4 linked regions of the Homo sapiens genome follow. The protein of the gene in region 3 interacts with the protein of the main gene of each other region in a biochemical or structural test. Each region holds a gene or a part of one and is shown on either strand. Other genes may lie near its edges.

Evidence for each region. The genes of interacting proteins can lie anywhere in the genome.
Region 1: the proteins of SAPCD1 (region 3) and DLG1 interact in a test that uses a peptide from one of them, tested with the Homo sapiens proteins (one large-scale study listed by IntAct).
Region 2: the proteins of SAPCD1 (region 3) and GOPC interact in a test that uses a peptide from one of them, tested with the Homo sapiens proteins (one large-scale study listed by IntAct).
Region 4: the proteins of SAPCD1 (region 3) and SHANK1 interact in a test that uses a peptide from one of them, tested with the Homo sapiens proteins (one large-scale study listed by IntAct).

The regions. Positions count from the first base shown.
Region 1 is NC_000003.12:197,134,613-197,138,112, reverse strand, and holds part of DLG1 (disks large homolog 1), read left to right. Parts: intron 1-1,434; coding exon 1,435-1,571; intron 1,572-3,500. UniProt on the Homo sapiens protein: Essential multidomain scaffolding protein required for normal development. Recruits channels, receptors and signaling molecules to discrete plasma membrane domains in polarized cells.
Region 2 is NC_000006.12:117,575,012-117,578,511, reverse strand, and holds part of GOPC (Golgi-associated PDZ and coiled-coil motif-containing protein), read left to right. Parts: intron 1-1,040; coding exon 1,041-1,064; intron 1,065-3,159; coding exon 3,160-3,335; intron 3,336-3,500.
Region 3 is NC_000006.12:31,761,237-31,765,350, reverse strand, and holds SAPCD1 (suppressor APC domain-containing protein 1), read right to left. Parts: upstream 2,696-4,114; 5' UTR 2,297-2,695; coding exon 2,183-2,296; intron 1,937-2,182; coding exon 1,796-1,936; intron 1,288-1,795; coding exon 1,192-1,287; exon of another isoform or gene 1,086-1,191; coding exon 996-1,085; exon of another isoform or gene 916-995; coding exon 820-915; 3' UTR 501-819; downstream 1-500. Other genes in the region: MSH5 (mutS protein homolog 5), read right to left, coding at 2,820-2,931, 3,166-3,239, 3,396-3,533, 3,736-3,879, 4,089-4,114.
Region 4 is NC_000019.10:50,660,803-50,664,302, forward strand, and holds part of SHANK1 (SH3 and multiple ankyrin repeat domains protein 1), read right to left. Parts: intron 1,881-3,500; coding exon 1,163-1,880; 3' UTR 1-1,162. UniProt on the Homo sapiens protein: Seems to be an adapter protein in the postsynaptic density (PSD) of excitatory synapses that interconnects receptors of the postsynaptic membrane including NMDA-type and metabotropic glutamate receptors via complexes with GKAP/PSD-95 and Homer, respectively, and the actin-based cytoskeleton.

The DNA of each region.
Region 1 (3,500 bases), on a different chromosome or scaffold from region 3:
CAGAACTTGAGTGGATTTTAATTTCTCCGTTATTTCTACTGATTTTTGTCTTACGTAGCATTTTAGAATATTTACATTTCTACCAAGATTGCAGCATTTGAAAAGTTCCTTTTTTTGCGGGGTTTTTTTGTTTGTTTTTTTGAGGCAGGGTTTTGCCCTGTCACCCTGGCTGGAGTCCAGTGGTGCAGTCATGGCTTACTGCAGCCTCAGCCTCCTGAGCTCAAGCGATCCTCCCACCTCACCCTCCCAAGTAGCTTGGACTGCATGCACACACCACCACACTGGGCTGATTTTTTTTATTTTTTGTAGAGACGGAGGCCTCCCTGCATTGCCTAGGCTGGTCTCAAACTCCTGGGCTCAAGCAGTTCTCCCACCTCAGCCCCGCAGAGTGCTGGTATTACAAGTGTGAGCCACTGCACCTGGCCCAAAATTCTTACGTTTATTGATGTATGCTTTTATACATTTTACTGCAGTGAGCATATATATAAATTTATAAGTTTTTTATGATTTTTATATTCAATATTTGCTCAGCATGTTTTTAAGAGTTTTTAAAAGTAGGGAACAAAATATCTATTTGTTTTATAAGTGGATATGTCCCTATTTGTATTAAGTATTCTTATATTGAAGACTTCTAGCATTAAAAGAGTGAAATATTTGTGTCCTTGAACACTTTGAAGTTTAGTATTGCTATTAACTTGTGATAATCTACAAAATACTTTAAATGCAGGTACACAGGCTAAGTTAAAAGAAGAAGTGTTTATAATATGTATTATGAGCAGTTACATCTGCAGTAAAGGACTGTTAAGATGTGATTGCTGAATTTTTAAAACATTGATGGCTTGAGGATAAATGGAAATAGTAGTTTCAATATGTGGCTTCATGGAAGAGGGAGGATGTCAACAAATGAAAAAGGAATGGAGAGCTGAGAAATTATCTGATATTGAAGCTATGGGATTTAGGAATTACAGAAATTCCTTACTTAAAATTGTTAATTCATAGAATATTGAAGAAGAACAAAGGTATTCACATTTTTAAAGCCTGTTGGTTCTGCCCACCATCACCAGACAATGTTGTTATTTCTTCTCAATAATTTTGTTCTTGTGAAAATATTAAAAGTGTAGGTAAGCATAATTATGATGGAAACAAAAGTAAAACATAATTTCGCAATGTCACTTTGGAATAACAAGTGCATTTGCGAAAAGATACTAAGAAGGAACATGTGGGATAAAAGGAATCTATTCGTAACTCTAGGAGCAGCTGTATGTCTAAGTGTCCCTTGATTGCAGAACATATACTAGTAGATAACTAAATAGATTCTTTTCTATTTTAAAAAATATTAGTGTGAGGGAATAATTACCTTGTAGTTTTCAACCATTTCTTTCTGGGCTTAAGTTCATATTTATGGATGAGAATCTAGAACTGTTTTCCAAACAGGTCTTGGGTTTAGCATTGCTGGAGGTGTTGGAAATCAGCATATTCCTGGGGATAATAGCATCTATGTAACCAAAATAATTGAAGGAGGTGCAGCACATAAGGATGGCAAACTTCAGATTGGAGATAAACTTTTAGCAGTAAGTATAAGAAATCTATTGTCTTTTAAATCATTTTGTAGTCTGTTTATTTTTCTGATAGATACTGGAATTTCTCCATACCAAAAAGGTCTAAATGATGTTTAAATTAGCAAATACTAGCCTTGCTGTATCAAATCCTAAAAAATGATTCTTGGTAATTCTTTATTTGTCATTTCTCTTTTCTCTGCTAGCTCCTCCTCCCTTTTCCTTTTATTCCTTTGTTGTTGTTGAGGGCTTGTATGCACAGAGTGTTTCATCATAATCCTTAGGTTTATAAAACAATGTCATCATTTGTTTATGCATGACCCTTTTTTATTTTACTTCACTTAATAGTATAATGAAACCTAGTAATTACCCAGCCCAAGAATTAGAACATCAACCATTTTGTGTTTCTTATTCCTTTGCTTCTTAAAAATTGTTTAATCAGGCCGGGTGTGGTGGCTCACACCTGTCTGTAATCTTAGCACTTTGGGAGGCTGAGGTAGGTAGATTGCTTGAGCCCAGGAGTTTAAGACCAGCCTGGGCAGCATGGCAAAACCCTGTCTCTACAAAAAATACAGAAATTAACCAGACCTGGTGATATACACCTATAGTCCCAGCTCCTTGGGAGGCTGAGGTGAGAAGATCACCTGAGCCCAGGAGGTTGAGGTTACAGTGAGCTGTGATTGTCCCACTGCACTGCAGTCTGGGTGACAGAGTGAAAGCCCATCTCAAAAAAAAAAAAAGTTTAATTATATACATATGCCTAAATAATTTTGTTTAGTATTATTTGTTTTGAAGCTTTTTCAAAACACTATTGCACTGTATGAGACTTTCATCTCCAGTATTTTTTTCACTCAATATTGCTTTACTGAGACTTACCCATATCATTGCTTAGAGCTAAAGTTCATTCATTTTATCTCTACATACTATTCCACTGTATGTCTGTACTGCAATTTATTTGTCCAGTCTTCATCAGTGTATTAGTTTGTTTTCACACTGCTATGAAGAATTACCCGAGACTGGGTAATTTATAAAGGAAAGCGGTTTAATTGACTCACCAGACTCAGGAAACTTACAGTCATGGTGGAGGGTGGGGGAAAGCAAACACGCCCTTCTTCACATGCCAGCAGGAGAGAGACGTGCCAGCAGTGGAAATGCCAGATGCTTATAAAACAATCACATCTCATGAGACTCACTCACTATCAAGAGAACATCATGGGGAGCCACCTCCGTGATCTAATCACCTCCTACAAGGTCCCTCCCCCAACACATGGGGATTACAATTCAGGATGACATTTGGGTGGGGACACAGAGCCATACCATATCAATCAATAACTGTCTCAGTCCATGTTCCTTAGGGAAACGGAATCTGAAGAAAAGCTAAAGTGCTAAGGTATTATTTGGCTGTGTGATCTCAAGAAGGCTAGAGTGAGTAAAAATGAGGAGTGAAGCAGAGAATGAACGAGAGCCAATAGAAGGTAGAATGTGTCTGAGCTGGCTGTAATTTTATAAGGTAGCTTGTTGCTTGTCATGTATAACAGTCTTCTAGGCAGACACTGTAAAAACCATCCGGGCATCATAAACCTTACATCCAGCCATCCAGAGAAAAGAAAGAAAGGTTTATCTGCTGGCCCTTTTATTCTCCTGTCTCTTGTCTACCCCCTAGGGGTTATTTGTCCCAAGCTTTTGGATTGTGTTACCCAACTCCCCTGGGCGCAGTTTCTAGGGAAGCCAGCTCCTATACTCCATGGCACAACACTTCACCCAAGCCCAAAAATGGTAGAGTTGCAGTGGTATGACAGGTCAAACATAGGTTTGTGACATGTTATGGCCCTCACTGTGTGGAACACATCAGCCATGCCCAGTCCCAGCCAGAAGAGGCTCAGAAAACTGGGAAGGGCAGGAGACAAGATGAAAGTAGTATAATAGTCAGGACTCTCCACTGAG
Region 2 (3,500 bases), about 86 Mb from region 3:
GACCGGCAGTCTAGAGTTGATACGGCAGCTCCACAAATATTAGAGATCCAGATTCCTTCCATCACTGTGCTCTGCCATTTTTAGCTTATGGTTTCCATCCTCAGGATTTCTTCATGTCTGCATTTCAGGCAGGAAGAAGGATTAATCTAAGGAAAGGGCAAAAAGATGCTTCTCCATGATGTTAGCCTTCTTTAAAGAACTTATTATTAAATCTTTCTCAGTAATTTTTGCCAGCATTTCATTGACCATCCCCAGCTGCATGTCAGTCTCCTATTGGCCATATGGCCACTTCCAGTAAAACTGGAGTCTGTTAATAAGGAAGAAGTAAGAAATGGAATTGGGTACCAACCAGTAGCACATTCTTTTCTTTTGCTCTTAATATATTGTAAGCATTTTTCCTGCCACTGTGTACCACATATGTTTTGAGTGTGTAAGAGATAGCAGATATTTTGTTCCTATATGGGACACAGCAATAAATAAGACAGCTATTGCTTGGCAGAGGCAGGACATGAAATGATGTTGATGATATAATGAGAGTAATACATTTATAAGTTTTATTTGTTTTCAGTTAATTTCATTTGGTTAATTAGTTCCTAGTACTGATGTGTTAAAATTCATGAAAATAATTTTAAGTTAAACTCTTAAGTTTTCTAACTCTGTGAATCTGTGTTAGAAGGGTTTTATTTAACTGAAATAAAAGCTCATAACTGCTTCTTCGAGCTATTTGACATTAACATTCAGAAACAATCTAAATTTTCTCTAGAAAAGAATTTACCTGAAGTTTTAACATTAGAATTTGAAAGAGTATGATGAAAAGAACACTGTACCAGTTATGTTGACTAATTTTGATAAAACAAAAAGTTTTAATCTAATGCTATTACAGTTACTATTGTTTATAGATTGCAAATATATTTGTTCTAATGAACTTTACCCAAATGATATCCAACATGTGGGATTTTTCCTTATAATGACTATACCACTAAATAAAATCATTTGTTTGATCTTTTTCTAATTATAAAACTTTTTTCTTATATCTGAAGTCTGGCCCCTCTGTGGAGGAGCTGGTAAGTATATTGTTTCTGTTTTGCTTTAATATGTCACGCTGAAGTGTTCTTAGTGTTTTATTTGCATATTATATGTTGTCACTCATTGTATTTGAAAATAGCATTAATAATGGCAATTTTTTAATGTTCCAGTACCTGAAAAGTTCAGTGGATGGCCCATTGCTCTTTTCTCACTGCATGTTGTTAAACATTTTTCTTTTGTTAGTGATTTATAGCCATTATTTGCAGAGCCTGTCAATTTTTGACAATTTTTGAGCCTTGTAGCTTGCTCATACCTCTACTTCAAAGAGCAATTGGTTTTCCCACTTCAGGGTATTGAAGATATATCAAGCAGGCTTAGTTTTTAACCCCCTTAAGTTTCTGTTTGAAATTATTTCCAGAAAAGAATGTGCATGTTGGTTTCTTCTTCATCTACTGCGTTACAACTTTTCAAGAGTCTTGAGAATAATCGTATGGCCTTTGAAACAATTGAATTTTGAAATGCTTTAGCAGAAGTTATTTTAGAAAATAACAATACATTTTTAATATTTTTCTCATTACCCCAACCTAATCAAGTTCCAATTTGTCTTATGGCTTTACCTCTTTTGAAGATATAATCTTTGGTATCTAAATGTAAAATGAACATCTTGGGTGTTACCTAGTAACAAACAGGTTAACTAAGAACCAAGAAAATTTTTTTCTGGAAATCTAGAAATGGTTAACTTCAGTTTCCTTCATCTTATTCTTGCTTACCTCTGTTAATTTCGGGCCCAAGAGTTTGTCAGATTCATTAGGGATTTGAATCATTAAAACCCCAGTGAGTGGTAGCTTAGTATGTCTCCCACATTTCATTAATGTAGTATAAATAGCTCATTAAAGTAATTGAAAGTAGGTAATCATCAACATAAAGTTTATTTAGCCCATAAGCCAAAGAAATCTTGGTCTAGGAGTGCTCTTTCAAAAGTTGCATCAACTTTAACATGTCATAAGAAAGATTTTTGTTTGTATCTCCAAACTGGTTTCTTTTGAAACAGATACTTGCCCTTTTAGGACATAGGTTCTGAAATAAGAGTTTAATAATTCCAAAATTATGTTAAAAGGAGGATTCTAGATTGAGTTTTTCGAATCCTTTAAAACCAGTATCTAGAAATTACGTTCTAATCTTTTTTTTCCCAGAAATTGAGTCTGCTAATCTTTCATCTGTTTGTCATATATATAACAAATATTTTTAATCAAAGAAGTGATAAATATATCTAGCATTTAGTAGTTGTCATTAATTTTAGCTTGTATGTGTGTGTGTATATGTAAATATATTTTTTTTAGGATTATCGTATTTATTGACTAGTATTCAAATATATCTATTTTGATGTTGTTCAAAACAGTAGACCAAAGGAGGCACATTAAATTAGTACCAAAATATATTCCATGAATTGCTGAAAATTTGCTTAAATTTGTTTCTTAGCTTCTCAATATCCAGAATAAAAAGGGAAATAATTATGTAAAATAATCAGTGCCCATACAATAGAAACAATACTATTCATCATTTCCTCAAGAGAAACAATTTCTCTGGTGCTAAGGTAGGTTTTTATTTACGTCCTCACAAAAGGGACAAAGGGGGTATAGGGAATAATGTCTTCCACATATTGTGAACAAATGTAACCATGTTTTCATAGGATTTGTGGATTCTGTAAAAGCAGTTCTGCTCAGGATAAATGCAAGTTTTCAGTGTTTACGTGGTTTTTTTGATCTATAAATAACAGTTAAAATGTCTATTGGGGTCCTTATTTAACTCTCAAAAGGGTTTTAGAAGTAAATAGCAGATTCAACTATCCATTGAAGCCACTTTTACTAATATGTGATAACATGAGCTTAGAGTAGACTACTTTTCTTACTATACTCCATATCAGGGTAACCCATGGCGTGCAATTATTTTATCTAGAAGTAGTTCCAAGATGTTATGGTACTAGTTCAAAAGAACTACATCCAGATCTTTGTGTTCCATTTTATAGAGATGATACATTGTTGAACTGTAGGCTTTTGTGCATTTTCAGGAACATGGTCTAGTGCTAAAGAGTTTTTATTTTCATTAAATTATATGCTTTTAAAAATTACATAGGAAAGAGAGCTTGAGGCAAACAAAAAAGAAAAAATGAAAGAAGCACAACTTGAAGCTGAAGTGAAATTGTTGAGAAAAGAGAATGAAGCCCTTCGTAGACATATAGCTGTTCTCCAGGCTGAAGTATATGGGGCGAGACTAGCTGCCAAGTACTTGGATAAGGAACTGGCAGGAAGGTGTGTAAAAAATGGGTATTATTGTACTCTTAAGTGACAAATTGGATATTTAATGAGGTTGACTCTTACTTCTTTCTTTTTTTATTTTTTATTTTTTTGAGATGGAGTCTTGCTCTGTTGCCCAGGCTGGAGTGCAGTGGCATGATCTCTGCTCACTGCAACCTC
Region 3 (4,114 bases):
TCTCCTGCCTCAGCCTCCCAAGTAGCTGGGATCACAGGTGCCCGCCACCACGCCCGGCTAATTTTTTGTATTTTTAGTAGAGACAGGGTTTCACTATGTTGGCCAGGCTGGTCTCAAACTCCTGACCTCAGGTGATCTGCCTGCCTCGGCCTCCCAAAGTGCTGGGATTACAGGCGTGAGCCACCGTGCCCAGCCAATGAAGGTTTTCTTTCTCCATCACATCCCTTTCCTTTCTTAGAAACTTCGAGACTGGGGCTGGGTGCAGTGGCTCACGCCTGTAATCCCAGCACTCTGGGAGGCTGAGGCAGGAGGATCACTTGAGCCCAGGAGGTTGAGGCTGCAGTGAGTTGTGGTCGAACCACTGCACTACAGCCTGAGCGACAGTGAGACCCTATCTCAGAAACAAAACAAAACAAAACACCCTGCAAGACTGGGATAGAGGGCAATGGATATTCCCACAATGCACTTTTCCTAACCCTATGAGAAACAAACCAAAGACATTTTTGGAGAAAGCTGCTTTCTGGAGCAGTTTCAGTTTTATTTTTGTATTTAAGGCTGAAGGACAGTTTCAATAAACATGCTTCTTCCCAGAGGGATTTCAAAGAAAGATCGTTTTTGCATGTCATATAGGGGAGAATGAGGACATGAGACACCAAGAAGATGAAGTTTTCAGGAGCAGAGGAGAAACTTTACACCAACATGTCTGAACTTCATTGACTCACTACCTGGAGCCATTTTTTAGCTGTTGAGTTAAGAAACAGAAAAAGGAGCCTGGGGCTTCTGACTCTTTCACCAGGCTTAGGGGAGTGAGAGGAGGGTTTAGACACGGGTAGGGCCTCTTGGCCCCTTGGTGCAGCCCCGCTGAGCCATCTCCTCCTTTGGCTGGGTGACTCCTTTCTGCTGCCTTGACAACTCCTGGAGGAGAAACAGATGGGGCCTCTGGGCTCCTCCCAGCCCTGTAGGGTGGGGCTCCTGCCCTCCTTCTTGAAGTTTACCTGTTGCTGCCACAAGTTCTGCTCCCTTCGTCTTTCCTTTGAATCCTGGGTGGTGCAGGAACTAGCCTTGTTCAGTGGACTTGGGGAGAACTGGAGGGGAAATTCGCTGTGTTTTCTGTTAAGCCAGCACTGACCCCAACAACTCCCCTCTCTAGTCCAACTTCCCAAAAGTCTAAACTGAAAACAATAAACTCACCTTCTCATGAATCAGATTCTGCAAACAGATGTTCACCTTTTGAATCTGGGCTAACGGGGGGCGACCAGGCTCTGAGTGTAAATCTGTTAGAAAATTCTAGAGGAGGAGTTGGAGGCTGACAACATGGTGAAAACCTGAGGTCGTCTGCCACTCTATTCCTGTCACCACAGGCCATCCCTCTCATCTGGATCCCCTCGTCCCAGTACCCTCCCAGGCAGGTGGGAAAATCCAGTACTCTCCACCTCCATCTCTTTAGCACATCAGTTCCTCCATCTCCCTCAAATAGCACAATACCCCCTTTCACTACTCTTCATGGAGCCTCCCTGTCCATCCCTGCCCCATTGGAATAATCCAGGCCACACCCTCATCTCCATGGAGTGATCCAAATCCCTCTGAATGGAATGCAGACCAGCTTCCTCCAGCCCCAACAATGAACACCAACTTAACACTTGGTGGCATCCTGTCATTACGATGCTGCCTCCAACTCATGATCCCTGACCATTAACTCTCCCCTCTCCAGAGTGGTCTCAGGCTGTGTCTACACATTCCCTGTTCCTCCCTCCCTGGTCCTCCCCCCATTCACACAGAGGGGCAGCCCCCATACCTCACCAAGGGCCCCTAGATGCAGCTGCTGTCGCTGTGCCTCCCTCAGATGGTCTTCAAACCAGGCCTGGCCATGCTGTAGCAGCTCCAGACCCTGCCACAGGGCATCCTGTTCTCTCTCCAGAGCCTGCATCCTGCGTAGCTGGGAAAGGCAATCACAGAGGCTGACTCTCACGCCACAGTAGGGCTCTGGGTTATGGCCCTTTCTCTCCACCCCTAGTTGGGTTCACTGTGTGGTCACTGAGTGTGAACCCAGACTGGCCACTGAGGACCTGGAGGGCAAGGGGAGGCAGGCGGGAACACTGTGGGCCCTCAAGTTGAATGGAAATATAAAGGGCAGATCTATTGAGAGAGTTCCCCTGGGACCTCTTGTTGGGCTGATACTCACCCAAAGGAAGAAGCTCTGGGCCCCTGGGTCTTGGCGGCTTGTCCCCAGCGGCAGCAGCAGGACTGTGTAGGGAGCCTGCACCAAGGGCACCCCGCCAGAGCCCTGGCTCCCCATGGCTCTGAGGTGGGAAGGGTGGAGCCACTCCCACTGGTGCAGCCCGGGCTGGTCCCTCCCCTCCACCCCTGCCTTGCACCCATCCTGCCTCTGTCAGCCTCTCAGGCCCCTTCCTGCTGTGTCTGTCTGAGGCTGGGGTGTTCCTACTTGAGAAGAGAGACCATCTCCCTTGGACCCCTCTGTCTTCCCTCTAATCTGTTTTGTAGGGCCTCTCTGAAGGGGTTCGTTCTCATGAAGTATCCTGGGGTAGAATCCGGGAGTCTTCCTACAGCAACAACACTGTATTTTTACTGAGGCAGGGCAGGTTCCCCTGTGGACTCCTGCTCTGTGTTTTGGATCTTTCCTAGTCTCTTGTTTTGAGACTAAAGAAACAATATCTTTCTTCAAAATAAACTTTATTCCTAATATGAAACAAAATTTCTAGAGAAACTAAAAACTCTGCGTCTGAGGGAGATAAGGAAACAAAGAGGGCATGGCAGCCCACCGGAGTCTCAGGAGGCTGGGGAGGACACTGGAAGGACTCTCAGAGGATGCTGGTGGCAGCAGGCAGCACTTCCTGGCTCATGAAAACGTTCAAGTCCAGGTTAGGATCTTCCAAATCCAGTTTCATAAACTTATCCACTAATGTCTGGCAACTGAAGAAGAGAGAAAATCGCAAGATTTATGGCAGAATGGACAACCAAATCCCTGGGCAGAGGGGAGAGGCTGTGGCACAGAAAACCTGGGATCTTGAAGATTTAGGGATTTCAGAAAGAAATGGTGGGTTTCTGAAGGGCAAAGTGCTGGAGGAAGGCTGAGTCCCTGAAAAGGGGAGAAGAGTTGCAGGAGAAGATGCAGAGAGGGTAAAGACACTGGGGCCATATACGCACTTTTCCATTTGGTTCTTCTTTAGCAAATCCTTGACAGGCTTGATGGGTTTTCCACTGCGGATCAAGTCTGAGACCTAGGAACAAGCAAGAAGGTGGGAGGAGTAAGGGGAGTGGGGAAGAGAAGGGGAAATAAGGGTCAGAAATCCTGTGGACCTAGACCCAGGCCCAGTAGGACTAGGAATGAAAGGGAGCTCTGATGTGGAGGTGGTTGCACATTTGGATCTCATCACCTCCTTGCCACGAGCCACAAGCTTGTCAGGAAGCCCAGCCTGGGCAGCTGTGTGGGAGGCATGGCTGGCCTTCGCAACACCTTCGCAAACCTGATAGAAGAAGACAAGATCGTTGCCATCCTCACAGGTCTCCATGGTCTTAAAAGAGAATAAAAGACAGTGTATCATCAATCACCTCCTTCCTGTCCTGAAACCCTTGGCCAATCCTGTGGGGAGGGAGAAAAGGGAAGGGATGTGGTCTCTGTGCTGAGGGAGCCCTTGTTCTGATAGAGGAGCCAATCCCCACCTCTGGGAAATGCCCAGCCTGGGGGTCCCCGAGGAGCTAGATTGGTCTCCTCACCAAATACTGCACCAGGGGCCCTTGTGGCAGCAGTTGTAGCTGAACAAGGCTCAGAAAGTTGGTGGCCACAAAGATGTGGGGGCATGTGGGTCCACGTGCCAGCCAGTGTCGGAGCACAGCGGCCAGAAGCGCGAGCCCATCCACCTGCAAAGAGGGCAGAGGTTAGCATTCGGAGCCATGGGGACCCCATATGCCCCTCTGCACTTGCACTGCCTTTCCCTGTCTCGTGTTCTATTTCTTTTCTGCCCACACAGCCCTATTCCATTCCAGAGGCCCAGCCTCACTGTCATGCTCCTTCATCCTCCTCCATTTTCCCCTCCTTAGTTTCTCCCCTCATCAGTTTCTCCCCTCACCGTGTTGGTTCCCTTTCCAAATTCAT
Region 4 (3,500 bases), on a different chromosome or scaffold from region 3:
AAACAGAAAGGGGCAAGGGAGTGGGAGCCTGGCAAAGAAGAAGAGAATGAGCATGTGTGAGAGAAACAGTTTCTGGGAGGCAAGTGTGCAAAAGGCGTGACCAAAAGTGACGGTGCAAAAGGGGCAAGAGGGAAGGCGGGGGGTGGGGGGCTAGGAGTGTCATGGTGAGAGGGGAGAGTTGGGGAGTGGAAGAATCTGGGGTTTTTAAGAATAAGAAGGGAAAGTGCTTCAACGTAAGAAAATGGAGGTAAGAGTGTGTCAGGAGGGGTGCATAAGATAGCAAGTGTGCAAGGGCTGAGCAAAGAGCAGGGCACTCCAGAGAATGAATGATGTGCATGGAGTCTGTGAGGGGGAGGGAAAATGTGTCCCAAGTGTGTCTGCAACAAGGGTCCAGAGCGAGCGGGGAGGAGGAGATGTGAAATGGAGTGTGTAAAGGAGGGCCCTGGTAGGGGAAAAGTGTGTAAGCAGCAAGAAGCAGAGAAGGAGGCATGGAGCGTGAGAAAGGAAATGCAGCGTGTGCGAGGAGAGCAGAGTGTATTTGAGCGGGCCTCGCCAGCCAGAAGCAAAGGCAGAATGTGCAAGACAGCGAGAGGGCAAATTTGTGCAAAATTGCAGCCCGGGGACGGGAGGGGAGAGAGGTGAGCAGGCGTGCAACGGAGCGTGCAAGAGGCTGAGGGGGGCAGCTGTGTGTGCTGGGGAGAGGGGAAGGGGGGAGAGCTGAGGGGCCTGGAGAGAGTGGGAAGGGTTGTTAGAGGGGTGGCAGGTGGTGGAATCCGAGGGCACCCCCTTCCCCTGCGGCCTGGGGGACAGTCCCCATCCAATCGGGCTCAGGGCTGACCCTCTATGGCTCTGTCTATCCCCTCCCCCCAGAATAGGCCCTTCCCTCCTTCTCAATTCCCCTCTGTAATTTCTCCTATCCCCCCTCCGCTCCCCGCTTCACACACACACACACACTCTTGTGTCAGCTGCCCCCCTTCAGTGAGGTGCAAATGTCCGGCCTGGATTGGGCCACCTGGTGACCTCTGGCCTTGGGAGATGAGGGCAGGGCGCAGTTTGAACAGAGTCCCTGGCCCGGGGAGAGAATGACAGTCAGGGGTCAGAGGTCAAGAGGCCAGCAGGCTCAAGAGTTCTGTGGACGGGGCTGGTCCGTCCAGGCCAGCCATCACCTCTCCAGGAAGAATTTGAGAGCCCGGTCGATGTTCATGCGGTGGCCCACCCTGGTCACACCTAGATCGACGTAGTCCTCCTTGGTCAAGGCGGGCAGGTGGGAGCCATCGATCTCGTGGTCCAGGAACTGGGCTCGGTGCTCCGCCAAACCCAGCCACTCCAGCCAATCAGCCACGTCGAACTTGGTCCAGAACCCCAGAGGTTTAGCGCCAAACGGCTTGTCCGGGGGCAGCGAGAGCAGGCGGGTCGGTGAGAGGGAGCGCGAGGCCCCTGACAAGGCTCCCCCGAGCCCCCCGGATATCCCCGGGTGTGGCGGCACAAAGACTGGGGCGAAGGGGTCAGCCGAGCCTCCTGCCCCTCCAGTTGGGGAGCCACGGATGTCAAAGAGGCCTGGGTAGAGGGGTCCGGAAGGCAGGATGGGCAGGGACGAGGGCCTGGGCGCAGGGCTGACCTTGTGCTCCGAGGCGGGCAGCAGCGAGGGGCTGGGGGCCCGGCGGAGCAGAGGGGGCCGCATCTCGAACTCCACGCCCTGGAGGTGGCGGGTGGACGTGGAGGAGGAGGAGGCTGAGGGTGAGGTGGCCCCTGGGGCCGCAGCGGCTGTAGGGGAGACCCCTGTTCCGGTGGGGAGTGGCGGCAGAGGTGGTTTGGGCCAGTTCTGAAACAGGCTGCTGACAGGCTTGGAGAGGAGTGAGGACTGGGAGTCGTCGGAGAGTCTGGAATGTGACAAGGGGGCAGTGGGGGAGGACAGGGATTTAGGGGGCAAGGGCAGGGGTGAGAAAGAGGCAGAGGTCAAGATATAGGGAGAGAGGAGGAGAGACATAAGGGTAGGGGGAGAGACGGAGGAGAGACGGGAAGAAATGGAGGGAGCAAGGGGTAAGACGGCCGGCCGTCGAGGAAAGAAATGAAGGGAGAGAAAGATGAGAGGACAGGGAGAGGGCGACAGTTAAGAGAGATGAAAGAAAAAGAGACATTAAGTGATAATAATAATAATCGTCACCGCTTACTGATGCTCACGTGTGCCAGGCATTGTTCTAAGTGCTTTACATGATTGCATCTCAGTTTAATCCCCACGACAGCCCTGATGCAGGTTACTATTATTATCAGCACAGAGAGGTTAAATAACTTGCCTAAGGACACACAGGAAGTGGCAGAGCCCGGTTATATGGCACCAAAGTCTGAGCTCTTCACCACTATTCTATACTGCCTTTCAGGTTATGGCCAGTCGTAGCAGAGTGAAAGATGGGGAGACAGTGAGAGAGAGACAAAAAGAGGGTGAGCATCCAGGGGAGAGAGATGGAAGGGACAGGGGACACAGAGAGAGAGAGATGAAGAGAGGGAGATGAAAGAGAGAAGAAACAAGGGGAGAAAAAGGTTCCCCTCATCCCTTTCGTTCCCTCCCCTCCAGCACTGTCCCACCTCAGGGCCTTTGAACTGGCTGCTCCCCCTGCCTGGCTCACTCTTGCCCTGGGCAGCTGCTCCCTCTCCACTTTCATTACTCTGCCCACCTTGCCTGTTACATGAGAGACCTTCTCCACCCATCCCATTGTGGTAGCTTTTTTTGTAGGATGGTTGCAATTATTTTGTTTACTGCCCCGCCCCCACTCCTATGTCCCTAGACTATGAGCCCTGTGGAGTTGCACAGTCTTTGCCTGTCCTGTCCAGCAGGGGATCCCATCACCCAGAAGGGCACTCTGCACACATAGGTCATGAGTCAATAATTAATGCAATTGTTGACTGAATTAAGCATCCTTCCTGTTGCTGCTACAAGCAGTGGAAAAAAAAAAAAAGAAAAGAAAAAAAAAATCCTCTTCTCTAACCAGAATACTTAAGAATAGTCAAGGAATTGCATTCAGTTCTTAAAGGCCTAATAAACCCACATTTGTTTGTTTATTTTTACAGCGTAGGAGCATTGATTCAAGTTGCTCTAATAATATACACTTCCTTTTTCTTTTCTTTCTCTCTCTCTCTCTCTTTTTTTTTTTTTTTTTAAGACAGGGTCTCACTTTGTTCCCCAGGCTGCAGTGCCTTGGTGTCATATCAGCTCACTGCAGCCTCAACCTTCCAGGCTCAAGTGATCCACCCACCTCAGCCTCCTGAGTAGCTGGGACTACAGAGGCAGGCCACTGTGCCCAGCCTCCTTTTTCTTTTCTTTCTTTTTTTTTTTTTTTCAACCTGGGAGCATAGATTTAAGTTGCCCCAAATATACACTCCCTGAACCCACATTTGAAGGTCAGACACATTTGGATAGCAGACCTTCAAACAGAATTCAAGTGAACTCTGTAGATGGACAAGGATATTTAAAACCTGCTCCCAACCCTCTGTGTATCTGAAGC